3 linked regions of the Homo sapiens genome follow. The protein of the gene in region 1 purifies or fractionates together with the protein of each later gene. This does not show direct contact. Each region holds a gene or a part of one and is shown in the gene's direction. Other genes may lie near its edges.

Region 1 (3,652 bases):
TTTATTTATAGATAACATTATATACTTCCTGTTGCATCACATCAGGAGGACATAACATGTTGGTTTTTTTCTGTTTTTGTGATATTAAGATTGAACAGGGAGTTCAGGTATTGCCAGCCTAATCTATCCTTAAGGTTTTCTGTCAGCTTTTCACCTAATAAATTTAGCAACCCATATTTTAGTAGGGGTTGCAAAATGGTGACATTTATTTTTCACTTATGAACTAGAATAGTTCTGTAAAGAACTTTCCCTCATCCTCTGTTTGGTTATGCTGAAGTATGGTTTGTATAAGAAAGGCAGAATAAATGCTTGCTTATTTTCCCTTATTTATTATAATACTTTTTAGAATAATGAATTTGTTCTCTGTCTTCCCTTGAATTGTTTTGTCATTATGAATGTAGATTTAGATATATTTTGTGTGTTTTAATCCATTGTAGTTATTCTGCTTATTGATGAACAAAATGTTCTATCTTTGGCTAGTGAGAGCTTCTTCAAACTGGTTCCTGAGATCTTTTGATGTGACCTTGGTAGCCTAATAATTCTTTTGGTTTCAGCATTTTCTTATTCTTGAAATTATCTTGGTTTAGCTACTCAAAAGTAGCTTTGTGTTTTTTAAAGCTTAGAATAATAAAGACCCTTTTGGGAAATATTATGTTATTTTCTTATCAACAAAGACTCAGTATTCCACTATAGTCAGTTTTAAGAAACATCTTTATTCTATGTTACTTTCCTGTACATAGAGAGGCAACCCTATAATACAAAAATTTAAGAGAACTAGCTTAACTTTAATTAATTTTTAAATTTGAGTATGAGTAACACAATGTGGGCTGCAGAGTATAGCTGAGTTAAAAACAGAGTTTTACTCTAGCTTTATAATTTGATTTCTCTGAGATGATTTCTAAGACTGTTCTATATTTGGAAAAAATATATATAAACAGGTTGCTGTTTAATAACAGCTTATTTTTTAAAAATGTGTTGAGCAATGCTTTTATATTACAGGTGCTGATCGGATTGAATTATGTTCTGGTTTATCAGAGGGGGGAACTACACCCAGCATGGGTAAGTGTCCATTTTTCCCAGGTTTTCTGATTGGAGTTCATAGAGCCTGGAAGCAACTGATAATCAGTTTCGTTGGGGTCCTTTACTAATGTCATGTTAACTATGTTATGGATGTTGTATCAGAAATGTTTATGATTGTAAAAAAATCAAAGATTTGATCAAACATATTTCTTTCTCACATCAAAAAGTTGAAAGGTAGGTAGGTAATTGTTAATACCGGTTCAGCTGCTCTGTAGTAACATCAAGGATTAGGCTTTTATAAAATCTTTCCATGCTGGCATCCTTAGTATATTGAAATCCCCTCCTGGTCTTTGTGCTATTGTTGTCATATATTTTACTCATACATATATCAAAAACTCCATGCTGTATTGTTAGTTTTGTTTGAAGAGTCAATTATCTTTTGTTAAATAAGAGATTTAAATAATAAGAAAAAAATCATATATTTACCCACATGCAACTACCATTTCTGGTGTTCTTTATTCCTTTGTGTAGATCCCGTATTTCTGTCTGGTTTCATTTTCATTCTGCCTGAAGTACTTTCTTTAACTTTTTTTGTTAAAAAGTATGCTAGTGATTCATTCCTTCAGCTTTTATATGTCTAAAATAGCTTTTTCCTTCATTTTTGAAAGGTATTTTTGCTGGGTATAGAATTCTAGGTTGACAGGTTTTTTTTTTCTTTGAAGATGTTTTTCCATTGTCGTCTTGCTTGTATTGTTTCTGACAAAAAGCTATCATCCATATCTTTGTTTTTCTCTATGTAATATGTCTCTTTTTTCTACCTACTTTTAAGATTTTTTTATTATTGGTTTTGAACAATTTTCTTATGGTGTACCTGAGTATAGTTTTTTCATGTTTCTTGGACCTGTGCATTTATACTTCTCATCACATTTGGAAAATTTTCAGCTTGCAGCTTGTTCTCCACTCCCTCCTTTAGAGACTTAAGCTATTCTTACATTAGACTACTTGAAATTGTCCCAAAAGTCACTGATGAACTTCTCTATTTAAAAGAAAATCTCCTTTCTGTGTTTTCATTTTGCATAGTTGCTATTGTTTTGTCCTTGAGCTTACTGACCTTTTCTTCTGCACTATCTAATCTGCTATTAGTCTCTCCTGGTATGTTTTCATCTCATACATTGTAGTCTTCATCTGTAGAAATTTGAGTCTTTTTATGTCTCTGATGTCTCTTAACTTTTTTGAACATGTGGAATAAAGTTATGATAGCTGTTATAATGACCTTGTCTGCGAATTCTAACATCTATATCAGTTCTGGGTTTGTTTCATTTGATTTATCATCTAATAATATATCTTATTTTCCTGCCTTGTAATTTTTTATTGGATGCAAGACATTGTGAATTTTACTTTATTGGTTACTAGACATTTTTGAATTCCTACAAATGTTCCAAAACAGTTTGGTCCTTTTGGGTCTTGCTTTTAAGATTTGCTGGGCAAGTCTGGAGCAGTGGTTAATACAGAGCTAATTATTCCTTACTACTGAGTCAGGATTCTTCTGTGAACTCTACCCTGTGACCATGAATTTTGAAATTTTCCTGTCTGGCTGGTGGAATAGGCATTATTCACAGCTTGGTATGAATGACAGGCACATTATTTCTAATCCTTTTTATTGGTTCTGTCCCAGGCCTTGCGTAGTTTCTTTGCATGCATGCACCGGTCAGTACTCAGCTGAATATTAAAGGAGGTTCTCTGCAGACCTCCAGAGTTATCTGTCTTCCTTTCTTCTTTCATTCCTTCCTTTCCTTTCTTTTCTTTCCTTCTCCTTTTCTCTCTCTTTGCTTTCCTTCCTTCCTTTTTTTCTTTTGACAGGGTCTCACCTGTTGTCCAGGCTTGACTGAAGTGGTGTGACCATAGCTCCCTACAGCCTCAAACTCCTGGGCTCAAGCAATTGTCCTGCCTCAGCCTCTCAAGTAGCTAGGATTACAGGCATATGCCACCATGTCCAGCTACATTTGTTTGTTTGTTTGTTTGGTAGAGATGGAGTCTCACCATTTTACCCAGACTGGTCTTGAACTCCTTGCCTCAGGCAATCCACCCATCTCAGCCTCCCAAAGCACTGGGATTACAGGCATGAGCCACCGTACCAAGCCTATCTTTTTTAAAAAAAATCCTTTTTTTAAACCATTGAGATAGTCTTTGCTACTCCAGTGTTATCTTTCTGTCCTCCCTGTACTGTCTCCTATAAACTCTAGCTACTTCAGTCTTCCTGAACTCTAAGCTTTGTCTCCTTAACTCAGGGAATTGTTTTGGCTCCATGTGGGTCCCCCATCCCTGTGCTTTGGCCTAGAAACTCTCAAGGCAGTAAATTGGGTCAATCAGAATTGACTTACTAACTTCATTGTTTACCATTTTCAAGGATCATTGCCCTTCACTGCTTAATGTCCAGTGTCTTGCAAACCACTGTTTCATATATTTTGTCTGTTTTTTTATTATTATTATTATTATAGGTGGGAGGGTAAATCCAGTCACTGTTACCCTGTCTTGGCCAAAAGCAGAAGTCTGTGTATGAATTGTGGTCTCCTAAGTTATGCTACTCTGAGGTTGATAATAGCATTATTTAATGTAAAAAGTTTGTATACAC
Region 2 (4,300 bases), on another chromosome or scaffold:
ATTCTTAGAGGATAGGAGCCACCGCCAAAGAAAACCGCCCATGGTAGTTGCACAGTGAGATCTGAAGTCAGAGTATTGCTACATAGTATTAACTTTTCAGTGAGGTATTTTGGAATGCTTACAACTGTGAAGCTCAAGAGATAGATTAATGTGAAATCTCTAAGTGAGTTCCTGAAAAAAAATTGAGAACAACAAAAACAATTTTTTATATATTTAATGCTAAGCAATTTAAAAAATGTTTTCGGACAGGTGCGGTGGCTCACGCCTGTAATCCCAGCACTTTAGGAGGCCGAGGCGGGCCGAGGTCAGGAGTTCGAGACCAGCCTGGCCAAAATGGTGAAACCCTGTCTCTACTAAAAGTACAAAAATTAGCTGGGTGTGGTGGCCTGTGCCTGTAATCCCAGCTACTCGGGAGGCTGAGGCAGGAGAATCGTTTGAACCCGGGAGGCAGAGGTTGCAGTGAGCCGAGATGGCGCCATTGCACTCCAGCCTGGGCAACAGGGCAAGACACCATCTCAAAAAGACAAAAAGTTTAAAAAATTTTCATATGCTCTATTTTATTTGAGTCTGTCACCTGCCTGATTTAGGGATGGTGGATAGTATTATTCTCAGTTTGCAGGTAGAAATATGAAGACTTATGGAGACTAAGTGACCTGTACAAGGGCAGGCAACTGTACAACTGGCATTAGAGTAGTCTCAGACTCAAATCAAGACTTCTGATTTGAAGTTCCTTATTTTCCTCTATCGCACTCCATTAATTTATTTAATGTACATTATTGAACACCAACTATTTCAGGTACTGTGTTAGGTGCAGCATATAATAAGAAAGTTGATAATCTGTCTATTTTACAATTAAAAAAAGAATGTGCAATACATGCACTTGGGGAAAAATTCAGTACAGTAACTGCTACTCTTCTCCCCTCTCCCTCTTCTCCTAATCCCTCTCTCCTGATATAATCACTGTTATCTGGAAATCTTTGACTATACAGGCTAAGTCCCCTGTATCTGCCGCGAGGTCCTTCCTGGAGGTGCTGACTGGACTAGCTGATGTTGGCTAGATGACCGCCAACCAGATGACCTTGGCTAACTGATCTTATCCCTTGGGCCGCTGTGGCACAGGATGAGTGAGCTACGCCTGGTAACAAGAGTGCCACTCTCGTGTAAGGGGGCTGCGAAGTAGAAAGGAGGCCAGCCCTTTGGAAGATGTTTCTAGAGGGTGTGGGCAGAACCAAGTCTCGGTAGTTAGGAAGATCTTGGCTCCAAAGTTTAACTTGCAGCGTCCCGGCCGGGTTCACAGCGCATGGGACAGGGGGGGCGGGGCGATGCGGAGGCGGAGCGGGGCGATGCGATGCGGGGCGGAGCGGGGCGGGGCGGCGACGCGCGGCGCGGTGCGGCGCGCGGCCGACGTGGCAGCCGCAGGAGCATGCGCCGCCCGTGGCCATCTTGTAGGCGGGGACACGCCGAGGTAACTTCCAGGGTGCGCCTTCGTTGTCTTCTCCAAGCTGTAGTTCTACGTCCCGACCTCCCTATCATACCACACTCTTCAGCGACCACGCAGGCACTTTCCCGGTCCCCAGGTGAGCGCCAGGTGGCTCCGAGGGGCGTGTATGAGGGGGGTGGCATGGCATGGCATGGCTTGCAGGCGCCAGAGCCAGACCCCGAGGGACGGTGTCCCTGGAAGGTGGGCGGGCCGGCCGGCGCCACTGGACGCCGATGTCGTTTGCGAGCCCCCTAGTCCCGTGGTCCAGGCTCAGCTGTGGCGGCGTGCGGGGTGCAGCAGGCAGGAGTGCACATCGCAAGGTGAGCAGTTTCCGCTGGGGATGGCACGGTGGGCGCGGTTCGAGGGTCTCGCCCCGCGACACTTTGCTCCTGTCCAAGGACCAAGGCAGGAGCGCTCTGGCCCCACCTTCCAGGGCGCTGACTTTAGGGGAGACTGGCGGGAGCGCCGGCGGACCTTAGCCCGGCCCTGTCTGGCCTGGAGACGTGGCAGAGCCTGAGGGGAAGCCGCTGTCTCCTGAAACAGGATTTCGGCCGCTCTGGCCCTGGAGAGGCCCAGGAGGCTCGAGAGTCATCACACCAGGACCTGCAATGAAAGGAAGCTTATTTTCCCTGAGGTTACCCCATCGGTGCTTAGCGCCGCTTGGGAGAGTTTTTGCATTCTCTCGTTTCTTTGTTTGGTCTTGGGACCTGCTTCAGGCAAATTTGCAGATAGCACGTTTCCTAGATTGACAGAATTTATAGCCAATAGTGTTTTTGTCATTCGAAGTAGTTATTTTGAGAGACAACATGTGCATTTCTGCGATCGTGACACATCTTGGCATTCAGTCTTTCTCCTGTGCAGCCAGTGTTTAATTCAGTGAAAATTTATAAAATTTTATTTCGGGGTCAGATTAGGCTCTAACTAGCGCTCACTGTTTGGTAGTAGAGACAATCTTGTGGCACGAGTAGGTCAGCAATAATTGCTCTTAATGCTTTAAAGTTTATCAGAGCTTCACTCTTCCATTTCTTGTAAACTTGTAAATAGACATCCACTTTTTTTTTTTTTTTTTAACAGAAAAACCAAGGCACAAGCAAATTGGAACAACAGGGTCTAGCCGGACTGAGAACTCAGTTTTCCAAACCATTTTCTTCACTTTTTCTTTAGTGTTGATATATGAATAGTACTTTTCGTGACAAGACTTGAGCCCTAAAACAGTTACCAACTCTGACACTTCAGTATTGTTTTATCATAATAGGTTTTTTTAGTAGAAGGCACTATGTTTATGCATGTAAAATTTACCTCAGTATTGCCATTACGGCAGTTTTCATATAAAAAGCCATTAAAGACAAAGAAATTGATTATTTATTCCACTTAATGACTTTGTATTCATTGTACAGTTTCTTTTGCAGACACATTTGTTAATGTTAGGGATTCTCTTACAATAGGACTTCTACTAGTCATTGTAAGGATTGGGGAGCATCTGTAGTAGAGGGTGAATGACCAATAAAAAATTAAATGAAGAAAAGAGGGAGCTTTGGTTGAGGAGTGGTAAAATCTCCAAAGGGGCATTTCTATCTCAGGTTATTTACCTTCGATGTATAGGTACTGAATGAAAGGATTCAGCCTCCCCGGATCCCTGTTCTCTGCTTAGTGCCATAGATCTTTCCTACGTTCACAGCCAAACTTTTTGAAAGTGTCATGCGTGTTAGTCTCACCTGCCACTGCTCGATTCAGTTTACACTGGAATCTTTCTCCACTCTTTATATGAAAACCGTTCTCCCTAAATTCATCTCCAGTTTGGCAGATCCATTGAACTTCTCAGATAGTATCCTATTTGGCTTCTCTGCAGCATTAATACTGTTGCCCATTCATACTGCGAAACTCTGGCTTTTGGACACCACAGTCTCCTGGTTTTCTTCCTTTCTTTTAGCTCATCTCTTATTCTCTGCAAACTTGTCTTCCATCTTACTAAACCAATAATTGGTTTAACATCATATTCTCTTTTCTCTTGGTATTCTCTTACGTAATCTCATCTCAAAACATGACGTTAGACTATCAGTACACTGATGACACCCACATTTATGTGGTTGCTAAGCTCCAGACCAAGTCAGTGTCTCTACTTAGATGTTTGTTTCAAGGAACTTAAACAGCATGTCAAAGACTAAACATTTTATGATTTCCCCCATCCGACTCCCCCAGAAAGAACATCAAACACATTGGCCTTCTGCAGTGTTTCCTATCTTTGTGCATGGCACCACCATCTATCTAGTTGTGCAAGTCATGCCTCCTTTCCCTTCCTCCATACCCAGTCACTGAATTTTGCCACCTAATCTTGTCTTGAACTTATTTACTTTTCTCCATCTCCACTATCATCACTTGAGTCTAGGTCAGAGTTTTTCAACTTTGGCACTATTGAAATTTGGGGCCACTTAATTCTTGTGTGTAGGCTGTGCATTGGAGGATTTTTAGTAGTATTCCTAACCTCTTCATGCTATATGCCAGTAGTAGCCCTCTAGTAGTGACAATAAAAAATGTCTTGGACATTGCCAAGTGACCCCTTGGGGGCATAATCAGCCCTTCCCACTATGAAAATCATTAGTCTAGGTTGTTACTTACTTCTGATGGAACTACTTCTATATCTTCCTTAATGGCCTGTCTGCATCTGCTCTGTCTGCCCAGTGGCCCAGGCTGCATACTTTGTTCAGATCTTTTCAAAAAATAAATATGAATTGCTAATAACTGGAATCAGCCTAAATGTCCTTCAGCAGGTACATTTATACAATGGAATACTATTCAGCAATAAAAAGGAACCAATTTGAT
Region 3 (2,836 bases), on another chromosome or scaffold:
GCACCGTCTTCGGCGTGCTGGCTAGCCTCTGTGTCTCGCTCAACGCCATCTACACCACGAAGGTGCTCCCGGCGGTGGACGGCAGCATCTGGCGCCTGACTTTCTACAACAACGTCAACGCCTGCATCCTCTTCCTGCCCCTGCTCCTGCTGCTCGGGGAGCTTCAGGCCCTGCGTGACTTTGCCCAGCTGGGCAGTGCCCACTTCTGGGGGATGATGACGCTGGGCGGCCTGTTTGGCTTTGCCATCGGCTACGTGACAGGACTGCAGATCAAGTTCACCAGTCCGCTGACCCACAATGTGTCGGGCACGGCCAAGGCCTGTGCCCAGACAGTGCTGGCCGTGCTCTACTACGAGGAGACCAAGAGCTTCCTCTGGTGGACGAGCAACATGATGGTGCTGGGCGGCTCCTCCGCCTACACCTGGGTCAGGGGCTGGGAGATGAAGAAGACTCCGGAGGAGCCCAGCCCCAAAGACAGCGAGAAGAGCGCCATGGGGGTGTGAGCACCACAGGCACCCTGGATGGCCCGGCCCCGGGGCCCGTACACAGGCGGGGCCAGCACAGTAGTGAAGGCGGTCTCCTGGACCCCAGAAGCGTGCTGTGGTGTGGACTGGGTGCTACTTATAGACCCAATCAGAATACGGTGGTTGAGAAGGAACCAGTGTTTACAAGTAATATCAGAAAGTTGAAGGAACCAGTGTTTACAAGTAATACCAGAAAGTTGCCAAACCCTTCTCTATCCTCTCGTATTTCTGAGTTTTTGTCCTTCCCGAGGGAGCACCCTAGTGAGAGTTGAACCCCTTCCTTCTGCCTCCAGGGCCTGTCTGCCTCCACATCACTCTGAGGACAGGGACAGGCAACAACCTTGAAGGGACAGCAATGGCAAAGCCACAAAGGCTTCACTGTACTCAGGGGAGATGGCCCTACCACAGCCACCTGGAGAGGGTTGGGAAGCCTTCCGTCTGCGGTGGGCAGGCAGCCTCACCCTGGGCCCACAGACCGGCCTTCCTTTGGAGGAAAGTGTGGCCTGGACTGAGGGAGGAAATGAGCGAGTTCCCTCTGACACCAGCAGATCCCCAGGGGCTGCTGGGCAGTGGCCTGGGAATGGGGTGGATTGTGAGAAAGTGCTCACCATCTATACACCCTGTATGTCCAGCTTTTGAACACAAGGGAACCATGCTTCTCTTAGAGGTTAAGCAGGGTCATTAACATCCTCCCCCAGTCCCTAACATCACATTGTCCTGCGTGGCTCCTCTGGCCCTGAGTGGCACCTGTCCCTCTGGTCTCCCAGCACCTGGCCCAGGTAACAGCCTTCTGAAAGCAGAGCCAAGGAGCTGCTTCTCTCTTCTCCCAGTTCTACCTCCCCAGAAGCCTTCCTCCCCAGGTGGGGCTGATGGAGCAAGGGTCCAGACTAGGAGCCTTCCACCCCAGCTGTGTCTGGCGCCCCTAGATCTCTGCAAGGGAGGTGTTACAGCTGGTTCTGAGCCGCTTGCCTTGTGATGGTAAGACACCAACCTTTACATTCTTCCCTGAGGTTGTGGCTGACAGAGCCTGCTTGGCCCCACTGTTAGTCCAGCGAGCTCCTATATCAAAATGCCGTAGGCCGGGTGGCTTACAAACAACAGAAACGTATTGCTCACAGTCCTGGGGGGCTGGGACGCCCAAGATCAAGAGGCCAGCAGATTCGGACTCCGCTGAGGGCTGTTTCCCGATCCATAGATGGTGCCTTCTCGCTGTATCCTCAATGGTAGAAGCACAAACAAGCAAGCTCCTTCCTGCCTCTTTTATAAGGACTCCAACCCTGTTCATGAGGGTTCCGCCCCCATGACCCAATCAGCTCCAAAGGCCCCACCTCCTAATACTGTCACCTTGGGGGTGAGAATTCCAATGTGAATTTGCAGGGGGAGTGGGGGACACACACAAATTTCGGGGCCATACCACCCTTCACCACACCCTCCTGCGCTCAGGGTGGCTTGCAGTCCCTGGCCCTTCTGGTGGGCATTTGGTATGTCCTTTCTCTTGGGGTGATTTCTGATGTTTTTACTCTATATAGTGAAAAGCTAGGGAGAGCGGGTCTTCTCCCCCCTCCCTCTCCAGTCCCCTCACAATCCCAGATGGGTTCTAATGCAGCTGCTGGGGCCTGATGCCCTGAGTTGTTTGTGATTCAATAAAGAATCCATAAGATCCTGTGTGTGTGGCCTGAGGGAAGAGGCAGCAGGGCTGGAGAGGATTTGTGAACAGGGCCTGGGGGTGGAGGGGAGGTTGGGACCTGTCAGAGGCAGCAGGGCTGAAGAAGGTTTGTGAACAGGGCCCTGGGGTGGAGGGGAGCTGGGGATCTGTCAGGAAGGAGGGCTCATCCCTGCCTTCACCAAGCCCACCCACCAGCAGGCAGCCTTTCTAGGAGCTGGTTCTTTCTAAGGATACCAGGCTCCTTCCTGGAAGGTAGGTGACCAGACTTGAAGTTTCCTATTAGTCGTAATTGCCATTTACTGGATGCTTGTTGGGGGCCATAGGCTGTGCTGAGTGTTGTACATCCACCCTTGTGAAGTTGAGAAGTTGTGAAGTTCATCTTCACAACTCCCCGTGGCCCCTTAGGTGGGAGCCGTCACTGATCTGTTTTTTTTACACATGAGGACACTGAGGCTCAGAGAGGGCCCCAGGAAGGAAGAGGCAGGAGGAGGATTCAGAGTTCTGTGCCTTCAGAGCTTGGTACTTAACTCTACCCCAGCATTCTGAGTCCAATACCCAGCACTGTTTTTTGTTTTTTTTTTTTAACAGAGTCTTGCTGTGTCACTCAGGGCTGGAGTGCAATGGCGCGGTCTTGGCCCACTGCAAC

What was found.
Region 2: the proteins of CUTC (region 1) and PRRC1 fractionate together in Homo sapiens (co-fractionation; one large-scale study listed by BioGRID). This does not show direct contact.
Region 3: the proteins of CUTC (region 1) and SLC35C1 purify together in Homo sapiens (affinity purification with mass spectrometry; one large-scale study listed by BioGRID and IntAct). This does not show direct contact.

What each region holds. Positions count from the first base shown.
Region 1 is NC_000010.11:99,738,711-99,742,362, forward strand, and holds part of CUTC (copper homeostasis protein cutC homolog), read left to right. Parts: intron 1-999; coding exon 1,000-1,059; intron 1,060-3,652. UniProt on the Homo sapiens protein: May play a role in copper homeostasis. Can bind one Cu(1+) per subunit.
Region 2 is NC_000005.10:127,516,200-127,520,499, forward strand, and holds the start of PRRC1 (protein PRRC1), read left to right. Parts: upstream 1-1,440; 5' UTR 1,441-1,577; intron 1,578-4,300. UniProt on the Homo sapiens protein: May act as a regulator of the protein kinase A (PKA) activity during embryonic development.
Region 3 is NC_000011.10:45,810,833-45,813,668, forward strand, and holds the end of SLC35C1 (GDP-fucose transporter 1), read left to right. Parts: coding exon 1-503; 3' UTR 504-2,184; downstream 2,185-2,836. UniProt on the Homo sapiens protein: Antiporter specific for GDP-l-fucose and depending on the concomitant reverse transport of GMP. Involved in GDP-fucose import from the cytoplasm into the Golgi lumen.